4 linked regions of the Homo sapiens genome follow. The protein of the gene in region 3 interacts with the protein of the main gene of each other region in a biochemical or structural test. Each region holds a gene or a part of one and is shown on either strand. Other genes may lie near its edges.

What was found. The genes of interacting proteins can lie anywhere in the genome.
Region 1: the proteins of NEDD4 (region 3) and RNF7 form a complex in vitro, tested with the Homo sapiens proteins (2 studies listed by BioGRID, with this or other methods).
Region 2: the proteins of NEDD4 (region 3) and HNRNPUL1 form a complex in vitro, tested with the Homo sapiens proteins (2 studies listed by BioGRID, with this or other methods).
Region 4: of the proteins of NEDD4 (region 3) and PPARG, one has a biochemical effect on the other in vitro, tested with the Homo sapiens proteins (2 studies listed by BioGRID).

What each region holds. Positions count from the first base shown.
Region 1 is NC_000003.12:141,741,298-141,745,088, forward strand, and holds part of RNF7 (RING-box protein 2), read left to right. Parts: intron 1-1,346; exon of another isoform or gene 1,347-1,610; intron 1,611-2,211; coding exon 2,212-2,259; exon of another isoform or gene 2,260-2,260; intron 2,261-3,791. UniProt on the Homo sapiens protein: Catalytic component of multiple cullin-5-RING E3 ubiquitin-protein ligase complexes (ECS complexes), which mediate the ubiquitination and subsequent proteasomal degradation of target proteins.
Region 2 is NC_000019.10:41,288,372-41,292,281, reverse strand, and holds part of HNRNPUL1 (heterogeneous nuclear ribonucleoprotein U-like protein 1), read right to left. Parts: intron 38-3,910; coding exon 1-37.
Region 3 is NC_000015.10:55,856,590-55,861,873, forward strand, and holds part of NEDD4 (E3 ubiquitin-protein ligase NEDD4), read right to left. Parts: intron 4,190-5,284; coding exon 4,072-4,189; intron 3,986-4,071; coding exon 3,818-3,985; intron 1-3,817. UniProt on the Homo sapiens protein: E3 ubiquitin-protein ligase which accepts ubiquitin from an E2 ubiquitin-conjugating enzyme in the form of a thioester and then directly transfers the ubiquitin to targeted substrates. Specifically ubiquitinates 'Lys-63' in target proteins.
Region 4 is NC_000003.12:12,379,570-12,383,479, reverse strand, and holds part of PPARG (peroxisome proliferator-activated receptor gamma), read right to left. Parts: intron 3,777-3,910; coding exon of another isoform or gene 3,769-3,776; coding exon 3,549-3,768; intron 2,159-3,548; coding exon 1,989-2,158; intron 1-1,988. UniProt on the Homo sapiens protein: Nuclear receptor that binds peroxisome proliferators such as hypolipidemic drugs and fatty acids.

The DNA.
Region 1 (3,791 bases), on a different chromosome or scaffold from region 3:
AGACCCAGCCTTGGTCATTTTGGTGTCCCCAGTGCATAACTCCTTGCACAGAGGAGATAGTAATTGTGGGATTGAAGAAAACCTCAGGAGGCAGTGGTTGTTTTTAATCCACACTGAAGAGACTAGGGCAGTGGTGTTTTTTTAAGGGTAAGAGCATGTGGAAAGGAGCAAACAAATGCCTGAGCAGAATCCAGTGTAAGAAGAGAAGCAGGCTTCAACTTAACCGTGTTTCTATTTTTACAGAATTATTTTTCTCCTATTTATGTTAAAAACTATTTTCTGTTGGTTCAAACTTCCTTTTACCCAACTCTGACTCCTCTTCCAGCTAGTGAATGAGTCCATTTTTGCTCCCTAAAATATTCTATATTACTTTTTTCATTAAGCTGATAGTATTCCAGATTGAATTTTGAAAACTTCTAGTACAGCCTTTAGGATCTCATTTTTAGTATTTACACCTACTCCACTATATTAGAAGTTACTATAAGCTCACTGGGCATGCTCATGGGCAGTTTATTTTCAAGGCACCCTTTTAAATAACCCATACATATAATGTTAGTATTTGTTTATATATACATCAAGAAATTCTAGAAGGATACCCAAGAAACCAGTAATAAAGTAATTTATTAAAAGACTTTACCATTGTTGGGTAAATACTTTGGGCTCAGACTTATCTGTATTTTCTTTCTTTCTTTTTTTTTTTAAAAAAACTTTTAGGTTCAGGGCTACAAGTACAGGGTTGTTACATAGATAAACTTGTGTCACAAGGGTTTGTTGCACAGATTATTTCATCACCCAGGTATTGAGCCTAGTACCCATTAGTTATTTTTCCTGATCCTCTCCACCTTCCACCCTCCAAAAGGCCCCAGTGTGTGTTGTTCCCTGCTATGTGGCCATGTGTTCTCATCATTTAGCTCTCAAGCATTTTCTTTTTTTTTTTTTTTTTTTTTGAGACGGAGTCTCGCTCTTTCGCCCAGGCTGGAGTGCAGTGGCGCTATCTCGGCTCACTGCAAGCTCTGCCTCCTGGGTTCACGCCATTCTCCTGCCTCAGCCTCCCGAGTAGCTGGGACTACAGGCGCCCACCACCACGCCCGGCTAATTTTTTGTATTTTTAGTAGAGACGGGGTTTCACCATGTTAGCCAGGATGGTCTCCATCTCCTGACCTCGTGATCCGCCCGCCTCAGCCTCCCAAAGTGCTGGGATTACAGGCGAGCATTTTCTTACAAAGAAAAAACCTTAGTGTTTAGGGATATCTAGTATTTACTTATTTTATCTGTAAAATTCTCACCAGTTTGTATCATCCCCACTTAATATATAAATACCTCACAGTATTGTCCCTTTTTTACAGATGAGGGAATTGGAGTTCGTAATTGGTCCGAGGCCCTGAACCTAATAAATGCCAGTGAAATGGGATTTGACTGTAGATCTGGCTCCACAGCCCTCGCTGTCCCCTCTGTCTCACTGGCTTCTCACCAGCCTTGTCTGGATGACCATCGGTAGCAACCTATTGGAAGCATACAAAGCAGTTTATTTTAGAGGAACTCTCAAGTGTCTTAGGGTAGAAAGTAAAAAGTTGCTTCTTATGAGTTGCTAAAGGAAGGCTTCTGTGTCAGTAAGTATGGATGACTTTAAAAAACTTGTTTATGAAGCAATTTTTTAATTTAATTTTTTATAAGTTATATATTCATATAGTTCAGAAATTGAGGAAGTTATGTATATTACCTGGAAGAGTGAAAACTCTCCTTCCCATTCCAAACCCTCCCAGTAAACTTTATTATTGGTTCCTTGGGTATCCTAGTGTTTCTTGATGTATGTATAAACAAATGCTAACATATATATATGGTTTATTTAAAGGGTGTCTTGAAAATAAACTGTCCATGAGCATGCCCAGTAAGCGTATGGTAACTTTGAATATAGTGGAGTATGGCATATTTTTCTCTAGTAGTTTTCTCTCTTGGCACCGTCAGGACATCTTTTCATCAGAGCTTATAAAAATAGAGGATTTGTTAACCCTTGTGAAATTGCTCCTGGTTATAATTAGTAGAATGCCTTGTACTTTATTCCTCTTTAAGTAGTTATGTTCAGATGAGAAATTAATAGTATGAGTCTTTATTGCCATCCCTAACCCTTAGGGCTTTTGACTTTGAAGTGTCTGGTTTTTAAAAATTGCATTCTGAGCATCAGAATGAGAATCGCTATTTGTTTACTTTTAGATGCCTGTCTTAGATGTCAAGCTGAAAACAAACAAGAGGACTGTGTTGGTATGTTGTAATTTTGTTCTCTTGCTTTTTCAACTGAAGGTTTTCTCTCAGTAGGGATGTTTGAATTTGAAATTAAGATTGACTTTATCAATACACAAAAATAAACTGTAAAGCAGTGATCCATTGTTAATATAAAATATGTTGGTTCTCAAAAGAGTTTAATGGAATGAACCTGCAAGTCCTTTTATTGCCATAATTAAGAAGAATTGGTTATATATTCCAGACATGGTCATAATAAACATTTTGGTAATCAAAAATTAAATATTTTCTATTAAGAAAATTATAAAATCAGAAATTTGTCAAAACATTATTTGAATTTTGGCTATGTTATAGGTCACTTTTGGTTCTAATAAGGCATTTCACTTTTCAATACTCTTATAATACAGTATTTAACTTTAAAACCAGAGTAGAAAAATTCTAAGTCTCAAGTATATTTTTGGAATGTGGTTTGTGTATCAAATTTTCTTTAGAGTCTTAGACTACAAAAGTTGTCGTAGGCTAAATATTTTAGGCAGTTCAAAGATTTTTATGCCCTAGTTCTTGAGGTGATCAAGTCTAGATTGCTATATAAACATGTTTATAGATTTTCTTAGAATAAAAGATTGGCTTTGTATTTTGTGTTTGCATGGTGTACGTAGAACACAAATACATGGTGTACATAGAACTTCTTAATATTGATTCTTGCAGTTTTGATCCAGTTCTTCCTCCTGAAACGCTTAGAATGTTTCACCCTTGCTTCCTACCCCCTGTAGCCAATTTTCATAGGCATTTTTTTCTTTTTTTCTGCCTTATTTCTTTCATTTAATCTTTTTCTCTGCCTTATTTCTTTCATTTAATCTTTTTCTCTTGTCATATAGCTCAGTTGATCAAGCAAGGGACAGATGAATCCCAAATTCGAGATTGCATTCTAGATTGTGGATGATTTCCCTTGTTTTAAAGTTTTTCTTTCATGCTGCTTGTTTAAAAAGTATTAATTTGGGAATTGTGAGGGGCAGGCCACTTTCTTTGATCACAGAGAGACCTCTCTCTCCAGCCAGCCACTTTGAAAATTTCATCGTCACATGAGGAATTGCACTGCTTATGGGTGACTTAACACAATTCATCACTTCTAGAAAACAGCTCAGCTCAGATGCACAACTGAATGTTTAGAAGCATGTTATTTATAATAGCCTACTGCATACTAAAAACATTTACAACTCATTCTGTCTTGGTAAATAAAAATTGGAAGGACATTTTCCCATAAAATAAAGCCCAGAAGATCTCTAAGGTCAGTGCATGACTGAGAAGGTCAGATCTAAGGAAGGTTCAAGAACATTCATCTAACTTCAAGAAGACAGCATGTGGAGCTGTGTAGGAACTAGGGGTCATCACATCACCCATAGATTCTAGAACAGTGATGGAAAGGCTCTCAAACAGTGACTTATGTCTCTGTGTAACTTACACATTTAAGTTTCTGTTTCTTTATAGATAGAAAAACATTATTTTGGCCAATTAACTATCTTTTTTCAAGATTATTATTTGTAATATAAAAT
Region 2 (3,910 bases), on a different chromosome or scaffold from region 3:
TAAAAGACAGTTCCACGTCATTTCCACATTCAAAATCCTAGGAGAAAAAGCCAAAGGAATATGATTGCCAACTCTTGCCATAGGCACTGGGAGTCAAATGTGAGGACAGTAGATGCAGGGAGTAGAATGTGGACAGCTTTCCAGATTGAAGTGCATCCTTCCCCAACATACAGGTAAGCTGGGCAGCATCAGTGAACATCTCAGAGAATGTCCAGCCCAAAGTCCTCCTTGCCTAAGACCCCAAAGTTGGTGGATATGAAGCAAGTAAGCAAGAGTTTTTTTTTTTTGTTTTTTTTTTTTTTGAGACAGGGTCTCACCCTGTCCCCCAGGCTGAGTGCAGTGGCACAGCTAGGGCTCACCGCAACCTCAAACTTCCAGGTTCAAGCAATCCTCCCACCTCAGCCTCCTGAGTAGCTGGGACTACAGGCATGTTCCACACCTGGCTAATTTTTAAATTTTTTTGTAGAGACAGGGTCTTGTTATGTTGCCCAGGCTGGTCTTGAAATCCTGGACTCAAGTGATCTTCCCACCTTGGCCTGCCAAACTGTTGGAATTATAGGCTTGAGCCACTGCACCTGTCCTAAAGCAGGTAATTTTAAGAAGCTCCAAGTATTTGAGTCTTGTGCCTAGACTGAGATGAAGACGAAGGAAAAGGTGGTCCAGTCCTGTCCTGAAAACTGATGAGGAGACAGGTGCAGTGGCTCACGCCTATAATCCCATCACTTTGAGCAGCCAAGGCAGGAGGATGCTTGAGGCCAGGAGTTCAAGTACAGCCTGGGTAACAGAAAGAGACCCCATCTCTACAAAAACAAACAAAAGAAACCCAGAAAGGGCAGTCTATGAATATAACAGATGAAGGAAAGCCACCGCAGGGCCTTTTCGAACTGAGTTCAGCTTGTTCAACATGTTCCCTGAGTTCGTACTCTTTCTGATACACATGTCTGCATAATCTGGGACCGACAGAGCTTAGCGACCAGTGGGGAATGAGACAAGGACACTCTATCATAATTCAGTAAGATGACCTACCTAGAAGCAAGTTTCTGAGGTTTCTCAGTTGCTTGTATATAAGCCTAGCAGTGACAGAACACAAGGTCAGATTGGCTGAGGCATAAAAGATGAGGGGGAAGTAATTCAGGAACAGCTGAAGAGCCATGCAGGGACCACATTCATTTATTCTGTAACAACTACTTATTGAATTGCTAAAGTTAGTAATTAAGATCCCCCCTCTTTTTGTTGAGACGGAATTTCACTCTTGTTGCCCAGGCTGGAGTGCAATGGCGCAATCTCGGCCCACCACAACCTCCGCCTCCTGGGTTCAAGCGATTCTCCTGCCTCAATTAGCTGGGATTACAGGCATGTGCCACCACGCCCGGCTAATTTTGTATTTTTAGTAGACGGGGTTTCTCCATGTTGGTCAGGCTGGTCTCGAACTCCTGACCTCAGGTGATCCACCCGCCTCAGCCTCCCAAAGTGCTGGGATTACAGGTGTGAGCCACTACGCCTAGCCTATGATCCCATTTTAGAAGGTGGATGGCTTCAGTTCTACCATTTACTAACTTGTGGCCTTGGTTAAGTTATTTCATCTTGTTTCTTTATCAAAAAAAGGGGGGCGGGGTAATAATATTTTATACAGCCTATGTTTATTCTAACTGTTAAATGGGCTAGTACATTTAATACACAGTGAGCACACAAGGAATGTGAGCTATCACTGCAAAATGTCAGGCACTGTGCTAGAAATAAGGGGCTGGGACTGAAGTGGTGGGAGGGGACACGGCCTACCTCGGCATGTGAGGGACTCTAATTTACCGCAGGAATTTGAACTTGATGCTGGTGGCAGAGCAGAGTGTCTGACTTATTTTGAATAGAGGAGCAGCCTGCTCAAAACTGTGTTTTGGAAACATTGCTTTGGCTGCAGGATACGAGAGGCTCTTTTTTTTCTTAGTGTTTTTTTGCCTTTTTAAAATTTATATTTTTAAAACGTTTGTTAAATATTTTTCTAAATGCCCATCTCAGAGAAGAAAAGGCTCAAAACTTGAGATTAGATAGCAGACTGAAGCAAAATACACGGTTCGCTTTCTGATATGAAAGTATAATTTCTTTCTCTATTCAGGTGACCACCTTGGGAATTGCCCTTCAAGAAGCGACAGAAGCACCCTCCCTTGAGGAGCTTCCTCATTAACCTCCTCAGTGCTCACAGGGCACAGCTCTGTGTCAGAGGCCCTCATGCCTGTTCATCTCTAAGCATGCACCCACGTCAAGACCATGGAGAGCGGCTGGATGTGGTGGTTCACGCCTGTAATCCCAGCATTTTGGGAGGCCGAGGTGGGCAGATCATGAGGTCAAGAGATCAAGACCATCTTGGCCAACATGGTGAAACTCCGTCTCTACTAAACATACAAAAATTAGCTGGTCATGGTGGCGAGTGCCTGTAATCCCAGCTACTCAGGAGGCTGAGGCAGGAGAATCACTTGAACTAGGGAGTTGGAGGTTGCAGTGAGCCGAGATCATGTCACAGCACTCCAGCCGGGCAACAGCAAGACTCCTTCTCAAAAAAAAAAAAAAAAAAAAGACCATGGAGAGCAGGTATGACTGTTGGTGTTAGTTAGCCTTCCTTATGGCCACCAGCTTCACTATAGGAACTTCCCATAATGCACAGAAACCGGCGCCCTCAACCAACCCATCTACCACCAACAGAGCCATCTGTCCAAAAGGCAAGTGGAGTTGTGTTGTTGTTCCTGCTGAAACACTCCTGTGTCAGTCCCAGGCCTAAAGACCCAAACTCCTGAAGCCTGGCATAATTCAGAGCCTGCCATTTTTATAGCCTGGTGTCTCACACCTCTTTCTGTTGTCCCTAGGCTCTAAGTATCATACTCTTTATGGTTTGCTGAAATGGGTTATTCTGTTCTCCACTTGGAAGGCTGTTTTACCTTTTTGTTTTGCAAATTGAGGACTTGATATTTGACACCAATGTCCTCCCCTCTTGTTCCAGGAGACCAATGATTTTTACACCCCCACCAACTCCTCACCCTGAGCCTTTTTAAAGTTGTGGTATCTTCTGAACAAAGAAAACTATATAAGGAATCTTAAGACTGGATGCAGAGATGTTCTGGTTGAAGCAAGAGTCAAGGCCTAGAGTTCCATACTGCCACATACCAAAAGAACCTCATACTCTGAAAGAACAGACTTTGGCAAACACTGTCACACAGTGACAAGTTAAATTACTGCAACCTGTTTGGAGTGTAGTCTTGGTGGTAGCTATGAAAATTTAAAAATATACCTTTGACTTAGAATCTAACTTTCAAGAAGGAATACAACTACATTCCCACAAGAATGCAAAATTCTATGTGCAAAATGCTCATGCCAGCACGGAAAATGTGCTCCAATGGGGAAGTAGGAGTGGCTAAATTGCACAGGAGATCCATATGTGGGGCTACAAAAAGATCTCCAAGTTACTCCAGTAAATGGAAAAAAGACAAGCCGCATTTATCTGTTCCAGGAAACAACTTTCACAGCCACTAACAGGAAGACGGGCTAAATTAAAGCAGGGTACCCAAACCCCTGCATCAGAATACTAGACAGCCATTACAGTCACTAAATACAAAGCTGCAAAAGTAACGACATGTCCACCAAAGGGAGGCGCTAGGTTAAATCAATTATGGTACAGTCATACAATGACTACAGACAATATAAAAGTACAAAGAAGCTCTCTTGGTAGTACCATAAAAAGATCCCCACCAAGGCCGGGCATGGTGGCTCACGCTTGTAATCTCAGCACTTTGGGAGGCCAAGGAGGGCAGATCACCTGAGGTCGGGAGTTCGAGACCAGCCTGACCAACATGGTGAAACCCTGTCTCTACTAAAACTACAAAATTAGCCGGGCATGCTGGCGCATGCCTGTAATCCCAGCACT
Region 3 (5,284 bases):
CCATTCTCCATGCTGCACGCTGCAGGCTCAGAGCATCCTGCAATGCACAGCCAGTCCTGTCCTTCTGGAGCTGAAGTCAATGACAACACAGAAAACAATGCTTCCTGAACACCACGACCTGCCTCTTCCTGACTTCTTCAGCCACTTCCCACTTCGCAATCTACCCCCTGGACATTCCAGACTACTTGTTTCCTGGAAATCTCATGTTCTTTCTTTCCTTATGTTTTTCTATACATGCTATTATCACTATCTGAAATATCTTAGTTTTGTTATTTAATGACATCAAAATTTACAATGCACATACAAATTGAATCAGAATATCCACTGTAGTACTGTTTATAATAGTACTGTAAACAATCTAAAGTCTTTCAATAGGAGACTGGTGAAATGCCTTAAGGGTTACTTGTACAATGGAATATGCCAGAGTTTAATGACTGTTTTAGTTGGTTTTTAAAGGAGTACATCTATCTGTACTGAAATGGTTCAATGTCTAAGAGACAGCAAGTGAAAAAAGCAAGTTACCAAAAAGTATGTTTAAGATGATCTCAGGTTAAAAAATCATCTACAAATATATGTGTATGCATGCATGTTTATGAATATACAGAAAAAGTTTCTATATATGTATGCATGTGATTTATCACCAGCAAATCAGTATCATTTATTCTTTAGGTCTTTGACCACTAATAGTAACTGAGGGAGCATATATTAGTGGTAAGATAGAAGGTTTAATTTTTATTTATTATTTATTTATTTTTTTGAGACAGAGTCTTGCTCTGATGCCCAGGCTGGAGTATGGTGGTGCGATCTTGTCTCACTGCAACCTCCACCTCCCAGGTTCAAGCAATTCTCTTGCCTCAGCCTACCGAGTAGCTGGGATTACAGACACACGCCACTGCACTCGGCTAATTTTTGTATTAGAGACGGGGTTTCGCCATGTTGGCCAGGCTGGTCTCGAACTCCTAACCTCATGTGATCTGCCTGCCTTGACCTCTCAAAGTGCTGGGATTACAGGTGTGAGCCAAGATGCCCAGTCTTAAATTTTATTTTATATACCTAAATACAATCTCAATTTGTAACCATAACCATACAGTGCTTTAAAAATATTTTTTAAAATAGGTAACACTCATACATGTTATAAAATTCAAAAGGAGCCTGGGAAACAATACTATACCAAGTCTTTACAAAAATTTTTTAAAAAAATTAGCAGGGGTACAATGGCATGTGCCTGTAGTACCAGCTACTCCAGAGGCTGAGGTGGGAGAATCCCTTGAGCCCAGAAATTTGAGGTTGCAGTGGGCTATGATCATGCTACTGCACTCCAGCCTGGGCGACAGAGTGAGACCCTATCTCAAAAAAACAAAAGGTACAAACAATATATATCCTGCTCATTCTTTGCCTCTCTTCAGAGGCAAGCAAAGTTATTAGTTTCCTGTTTAGTCCTCGAGTAAATTATACACATATTTATGCTCTGCATTTAAATAATTTACATAAATTCTGGTGTAACAAACACACTGTTCTGTACCTTGCTGTTTTTCATTTACCAGCATCTCTTAGGGATTGTTCCATCCAACATATACACTCGAGCCCACCTTGTTCTCTTCAATGGCTGCATAGTATTACACTATATGGTTGCCATGTATTACTTTAAGTAAAAAAAATACCAGGAAGAAGGGGAATGGGATCGTATGTGATTTATCATCAGCAAATCAATATGGTTTATTCTTTTTTTTTTCTTGAGACGGAGTTTCACTCTGTCACCCAAGCTGAAGTGCAATGGTGCAATCTCGGCTCACTGCAACCTCTGCCTCTTGGGTTCAAGCCATTCTTCCAATCTCAGCCTCCCAAGTAGCTGGGATTACAGGTGTGCACCACCACACCGAGCTAATTTTTGTATTTTTAGTAGTGACAAGGTTTCGCCATGTTGCCCAGGCTGGTCTTGAACTCCTGACTTCAACCCATCTATAATCCCAGCCTCCCAAAGTGCTGGGATTACAGGCGTGAGCCACCACGCCTGGCCTAATGTAGTTTAGGTCTTTGACTGACCTGTCCCACTCCCCTGTGAAAAAATGAAATGAATGGAAGACAGAACAGACAAATGGAAGAAAGGAAGGGCAGGAGGCAGGCAGGCGGATTTACTGGCAGATATTCATATTCACGTACAACTATCTACTGTGAAGCTTCTTGAAGAAGATGCTAGAGCAGAGGTTAGCACACATTTCCTGTTAAGATCCAGACAGTAAATACTGGCTGTGGGCCATATGGTTGCTGCTGTAACTACTTTATTCAGATGATGTCGTGTGAAAGCAGAGATGGGCAATACCAAAACAAATGATGTGGCTGTATTCCAATGGTAATTATTCATAACAGGCAGCTGCTGATTTGGCCCACCGGTTGTAGTTTGCTTTCCTCTGCACTAGAATGTAAGTCCCATGAAGGCAGGAGATATTGTTAATTTTATTGACTGATGTATCCTCAGTAACTAGCATATAGTACTCTGCATATATGTGATCAGCTCTCATTAAATATTTACTAACTAAATGAAAGGCAGGGAAACCTCAACTGGAAATGACAAATAGCATCCTCAGAGAATAATCTTTGTCTTCTACTCAATCTCCCTTGATGATACATATTAGACAGCTAGCTATGAAGTTCTCATCGTGGAAGCATATGCTGGGATACTTTATTCTGAACCCTATGGACAACAGTTTTTACAGTGGTGGCTGAAGTGAAAATGTCATCTATCTCCTTGTTTAGTCAAAGTATATCAGTTCTTATTCATATATACCTGTTGGTGACATCTGTGATATAATGTTAAAACTTCAGGCCAGAAGCAGTGGCTCATGCCTGTAATCCCAGCACTTTGGGAGTCTGAGGCAGGTGGATCACTTGAGGCCAGGAGTTCAAGACTAGCCTGGCCAACAGGGTGAAACTCCTCCATCTCTACTAAAAATACAAAAATTAGCTGGGCGTGGTGGTGTGCGCCTGTAATCTCAGCTATTCAGGAGGCTGAGGCATGAGAATCGCCTGAAGCTGGAGACGGAGTTTGCAGTAAGCCGAGATAGCACCACTGCACTCCAGTCTAGGTGACAGAGTGAGATGTCTCAAAACAAACAAACAAACAAGCAAACAAAAAACCAACTTCAGCATAACTGGGAGAGAGAAAAGCAGTCCCTAACATCCAAGAGCTGGCCTGGCACTCATAGGTAAGATCAAGACAAAATCAAGACCACTCTGTAATCGTGGCTGAATATAGACAAAACATGAACATTGTCCAAGCCACAAAATACCAAACATTTCCCCATCCTGGCAAATGTGAGTGACTGTTCTACTTTGCTAATCATAGCTTTAGCCTCACTACAGATAAGATTTGAGATACAAAATCATAGAATTATCCCTGCTTCCCAACAGCATCTCATGTAGAGCAAAGTCCTGCTTCCTAAAACCCTCTTCAAAATCACCTAACAGGAGCCCAAATCCCTGAAGTCTTTTCTAACATTCTGCTACCAAAACACCAATGGTGCGTGTTCTCCCTTGCTGAAATGAATAATAAACCCAACTTGTTCAATGACAAATGTGTCCCTAGTGATTTTTGACTGGAGGGCACTGACATAATGGAAATTTGGATGCCATGACTCTGGTCCATACTACTAATGAGGATATTTGAAAAATGACCATGTTGTAAAGTCCCAAGGTCCCTAATGTATTATTACATATTATTGCATTTAAGACAAAATTTTACATAAAAGTTAGTTGTTGAATAGTATAATATGCATAATATAAACTACTGAAGCCGTAACAAAATCTAAGAGCATCTTACTGAGCTCGATGCTGGCTGGCTCACGGCTGAATTTCCAAAAATGGTGAGTCTGGCATTCAATTCTTCTGCAAGATGAGTTGGAACATCCAAGTTACTTGACGGTGGAGGTGATGGGAAGGCCTGGTTGCTATACATGGTGGCTTCATCTTCTCTTATAATTTCCCAGTTCTAAAATGAACAGAATAAGCTTGAGCCACACATACTTTATTGCTATAGCATGTGTCTTTCAAGGAGAACTAGGAAACTACTTATACCTCGGAAGACTCTCGGTTGTCAACACTTTCTGTTTCCTCGGATATCTGCCGCCTGGTGGTAAATGCACGTTGTGCTTGCAGTTGAATGTTGCCATTCTCAGCATCTGTTAGGTTGTCCCTATATTGGAAGTATAAAAAGCCATCATCCATGTCTTAAGTAGTTAAAATGATTGTCAAAGATTCTGTGATCATTGGGAAAAAAATCTACATTACATCAATAAAAAAATTTATTGTCTTTGACCAAAGGCTATTTCAACATGCAAAGATTCAATCATGGGTAGGCAGACTGGTATATTTAGAGTACCTTACGGAGTTTAAGGTTTTGTGAAAAGGTATAACATGTCTGATTTGATATTTTAGTTTGTCACTATGTCTAGGATAATGTCCAACACATATAGGTACTCAAAAATATTTGTTGAATGAATAAATATCAGAGCGCTTCATAGATTATTTCATTGTATTATTTTGCCATGTTATTATAAGAGTAATAGAGTTACACATACATACATCTTTGTGAATCAGATAGTACATTTTCTAGAATTGGTCTTAAGCCAGGAGTAGAGTACTCCATGCATGAATGTGAAGGGCAGAATGAAAGATGGTGTAAGAACTTTATAATGAAAAGCTTAATGGTTTAGGAATTACATATCTATTAGTAATGGTATCTGTTTTTCGTAATATACAGTCATGGGCCTGTCCTGAAAAAGGTAATAGTAAAGATTTGTCTGAGCTTAGGAGAGGTACAATAAATCAGATTGGACGGTTAATGAGTATTAAAAAAAACAGAAAGAATGAATAAGACCTAGTATTTAATAGCTTAACAGGTGACTACAGTCAATAATAATTTAATTGTACATTTAAAAACAACCAGAAGACTATAATTGGATTGTTTGTAACAAAAAGGATAAAGGCTTGTGAGGATGGATACCCCATTTTACATGATGTGATTATTATGCCTTGCATGCCTGTATCAAAACCTCTCATGTACCCCACAAACATATATACCTACTAGGGACCCACAGAAATTAAAATTAAAAAAAATCAGATTGAACACCCTTACCCCAGTCATTTATATTATTCTAATTATTTGCATTTAATATAACCAGTCTATCAGATCAAGAATTTTGTTCAAATATTTAATAATAAAATTACTGTTTATTTAATGCGACATGAGCTCAGGCTAGTCAGAAGACCAGTTCTTACTGTACCGTAG
Region 4 (3,910 bases), on a different chromosome or scaffold from region 3:
TAAAAATAAACTCTAACTCATTAAATCTAAAATAAAACTCAATAAAACCACAAAACATTCAATAAAAAATCTAAGTCAATAAAATGACATGTTCTTACTACTCATCAAGATCTTAGATAACTGACTTAATACAATGATTTCATATAAGGTCATAAATATTTTAACTTGGTTTAAATTACAGAACGAACGGGTTTTAGTGTTTTAAATGAAAGCATCTCTTGCCAGAGTGTTTCAAAGTGTCATTTTGAAATTACAGAACTTAGAGATGAATAAGACCTTGTGTAGCCAATCTAACCAAGTCATTTTACATATGGGGGGCCTGATGAAGGATACAATGTGTATGTGACTGGCTAATGACTTTGGAAAGTGGCAGAGCTGACCTCTGGTTTGTCCCTTTTCACTGTATTAGGTTGCCTTTAGAGTAAAAACTGTTTCAATTGAAGGGACTTTAGAGATCATGTAATTCAGTGTCATTTTATTTATTTACTTATTTATTTATTTATTTTTGGAGTTAGGGTCTTGCTTTTGTGACCCAGGCTGGAGTGCAGTGGTATGATCATAGCTCACTGCAGCCTTGAACTTCTGGGATCAAGGGATCCTCTTACCTAAACCTCCCAAGAAGCTAGGACTACAGGCATGTGCCACCATGCCTGGTTAATTTTTTAAAAATTTTGTAGGGATGGGGTCTCACTATGCTGCCCAGACTGGTCTTGAACCCCTGGGCTCAAGTGATCCTCCTGCCTTGGCCTCCCAAAGTGTTGGGATTAGAGGCGTGAGCCACCACACTCAGCCACAATCATTTTATAGATGAGAAAACCTGGGTAGGATGTGGTTAAATACTGATGTATGAAAACGTTACCTCATACAGTATTTGGCATGTAGTAAGAATTCAATAAAAATCAGTTTCCTTTTTTGGCCCACCATCCATTTAGGAACCAAGATGTCCTAAAACTTTCCTAACTGTTGTTCTGTATCTTTACGTTGAATAAAAAGCCCAATAAGCAGGTATTTATTTTATAAAGTGAATATTTATGAACAGTTTATTCTGTGCAATGCGTATATAATAAATTAGTACTATTTTTGCATTGTGTATATTAAAATTATCTTAAAAGACTGCATATCAAAATATGAGTGGATTCACATATTTTCTTAATAATTAAGCAATAAATTACTAAACGTCTGAATTTTCCAAAATACCCTTTTCACAAAGGAAAGAGATGAGGATAAATAGTATCTCCTTTCCCACACTGTTATACCTCCTTACCTGTCCGTGTATGTGGCTCACATTGATGCTGGAATAAGGAAACATGAGGCACTGCTTTGAGAGCCAACACCACCTAAGGAGTCAGGGTCTAGACTGCGGTCTGCCACTTACTAAGGGATGACCTTGGCAAGTTTTACTAACCTGTAATTTCTACATCTGCAATGTGGCCATAAAGAAGTCCAATCTTATAGGATTGCTCTAGGGATCCAAAGATATGCATATATAAATAATCTGTAAAATCTTCTGTCTATACAATATTACACGGTATAGCAAAATAAATAAATAAATAAATAAATAAACAACTAGAGAATGCAGGAAATCTGCATCCTGGTTCCAGGTCATCACTGTCTTGCCATGACACCTTGGAGAAGTCACCTTTTTGTAAAAATCTGCAAGATGCAAGGATTAAATTAGATCAGTGTCTCAAAGAATCAATTTGGAGAAACAAATGTGGGGCAAAGCAGCCCAACTTTTATCCACTTTCTTAGGCTTTCAAATCTTATATCATCCTTTGGGAGGCTGAGGTGGGAGGATCACTTGAGCCCAGAAGCTCAAGGCTGCAGTGTGCTAGGATAGCACCACTGCACTCTGGTCTGGGTGACAGAGCAAGATACTCTTCCATGAAGAAAAAAAATTCATATATTGTATCACCTAAAAAAGGGGTTCTGCTGAAATGAAATAATAAAGTTTCAACAATTTCTTTGAAGACTTTTTTTTTAATTACCTTGCATCCTTCACAAGCATGAACTCCATAGTGAAATCCAGAAGCTTTATCTCCACAGACACGACATTCAATTGCCATGAGGGAGTTGGAAGGCTCTTCATGAGGCTTATTGTAGAGCTGAGTCTTCTCAGAATAATAAGGTGGAGATGCAGGCTCCACTTTGATTGCACCTGTGTATGGAGACATGTGAGAGGATAATTATCCCATGAAAACAGTCCTAAAAAGGCAACAGGGCAAGCCACCATAGTACACCTTCATGCTGTATTTGTATTGTTTCAGTGTAAAAGCACAGTGGAACATGAAAAAACACTGGAGTTAAGGCAAGAAAAAGAAAGGTTTGTAATCACAGGCAAGTTATAACATCTCTAAGCCTCACCTGTAAATATAAAATGGGAATGAGAATTAAGTCTGTGGTTCTATGACCCCCAGTAGCCTGCAATACTACAGCTGTAACAGACAACATAGAGGATTTGAGACAAGGAAGCTTATTTTGCTAGGAAATGTTCTGTCTTTGGTATTCATCACAATATTAAATTATACATTTTATTTAAATATTCCATTTTATAAGTACTTTGAAACAACTTGCAAAAGAACCACAGAAGGAACACCACTGTGAAAAGGTCATGGTATGCCTAGCTTGAGGTGCATGAAAAATATGAGCCCAGGTTACCATTAGTGTTCAGTCAAAGGAGGTGGTTTGTGAAATAATCTTTGACAGAGCGTGGCGGAACTTATGGAAGTAAGCCCTACCTTTTACTAGTTGGGCTCAGGGCTACTAAATTTCCATATTAGGCTCTAACTGAAAACCGCATAGATAAATATAACTAAGCATATTATTTATCTTTAAAAGCCACTAGAAATACAGGAAGTTCTTACTTGTCAAGTAATGATTGCCAATTACATAGTGGTGGCTTTGGAAAACCAGCATGTCAGCCCACACATGATAAAAATCAAGGAAATAGCATCACAGAAATACATTTTATCTCAAAAAGTGCAGTTCTAGTTTTTCTTGAGTCTGATGTTTTGATGTTGATTTAGTTAATGGCATGAAAATTTATCAATAGGCTACAATGTTAAAACAAATTTGTGCTTAAAAGTAGGTTTCAGTATAAACTCCTGAAAGGACATACTAGAAAAAATGTACTGTAGTAGCAGTAATATAGTGAAGATAAGTTATATAATACAAAGTGACTTGGAATTGTTACTTATTAACTTATAAGGGGCCAAAATAATTCAAAGTTTGGATGATGGACTCTTAGCCTGAGATACAACTGACAGTGTAATCAAGGTAGAAAATGTCCCTAAGAAGGAAGTAAGCAAGAAAGGAAAGAAGAGAGGAAGGAAGGAGGGGGCGGGGAAGGCAAGATTGACCTCGTGCCAGCTCCCTTCCTGGCATTTCATAGATACCTAATATTTCATGGATAAATGGGTGAATAAATGAATGGTGAATGCCTTCTCTATTAGATTTCTAGTCTCTGGAGCATTATTTATTACAGGGTTACTGAGAGATGAGTCCAATTCTAGTCCTAGTAGTCTGAAAAGTGAAAATAAACATCATACTTTGGTACTCTTGAAGTTTCAGGTCATACTTGTAATCTGCAACCACTGGATCTGTTCTTGTGAATGGAATGTCTTCGTAATGTGGAGTAGAAATGCTGGAGAAGTCAACAGTAGTGAAGGGCTTGATATCAAAGGAGTGGGAGTGGTCTTCCATTACGGAGAGATCCACGGAGCTGATCCCAAAGTTGGTGGGCCAGAATGGCATCTCTGTGTCAACCATGGTCATTTCTGAAAGGAAAAATAGACTAGCTGTGAAGTTAAGTCCTAGAGAACACAGCAATCTCACAGAGTTTCAGAAAGAGAAATGAAAAGAGTCTTTGGCAAAGTAATCTCATCTGGGCGCTCACAACAACAGAAAAGAA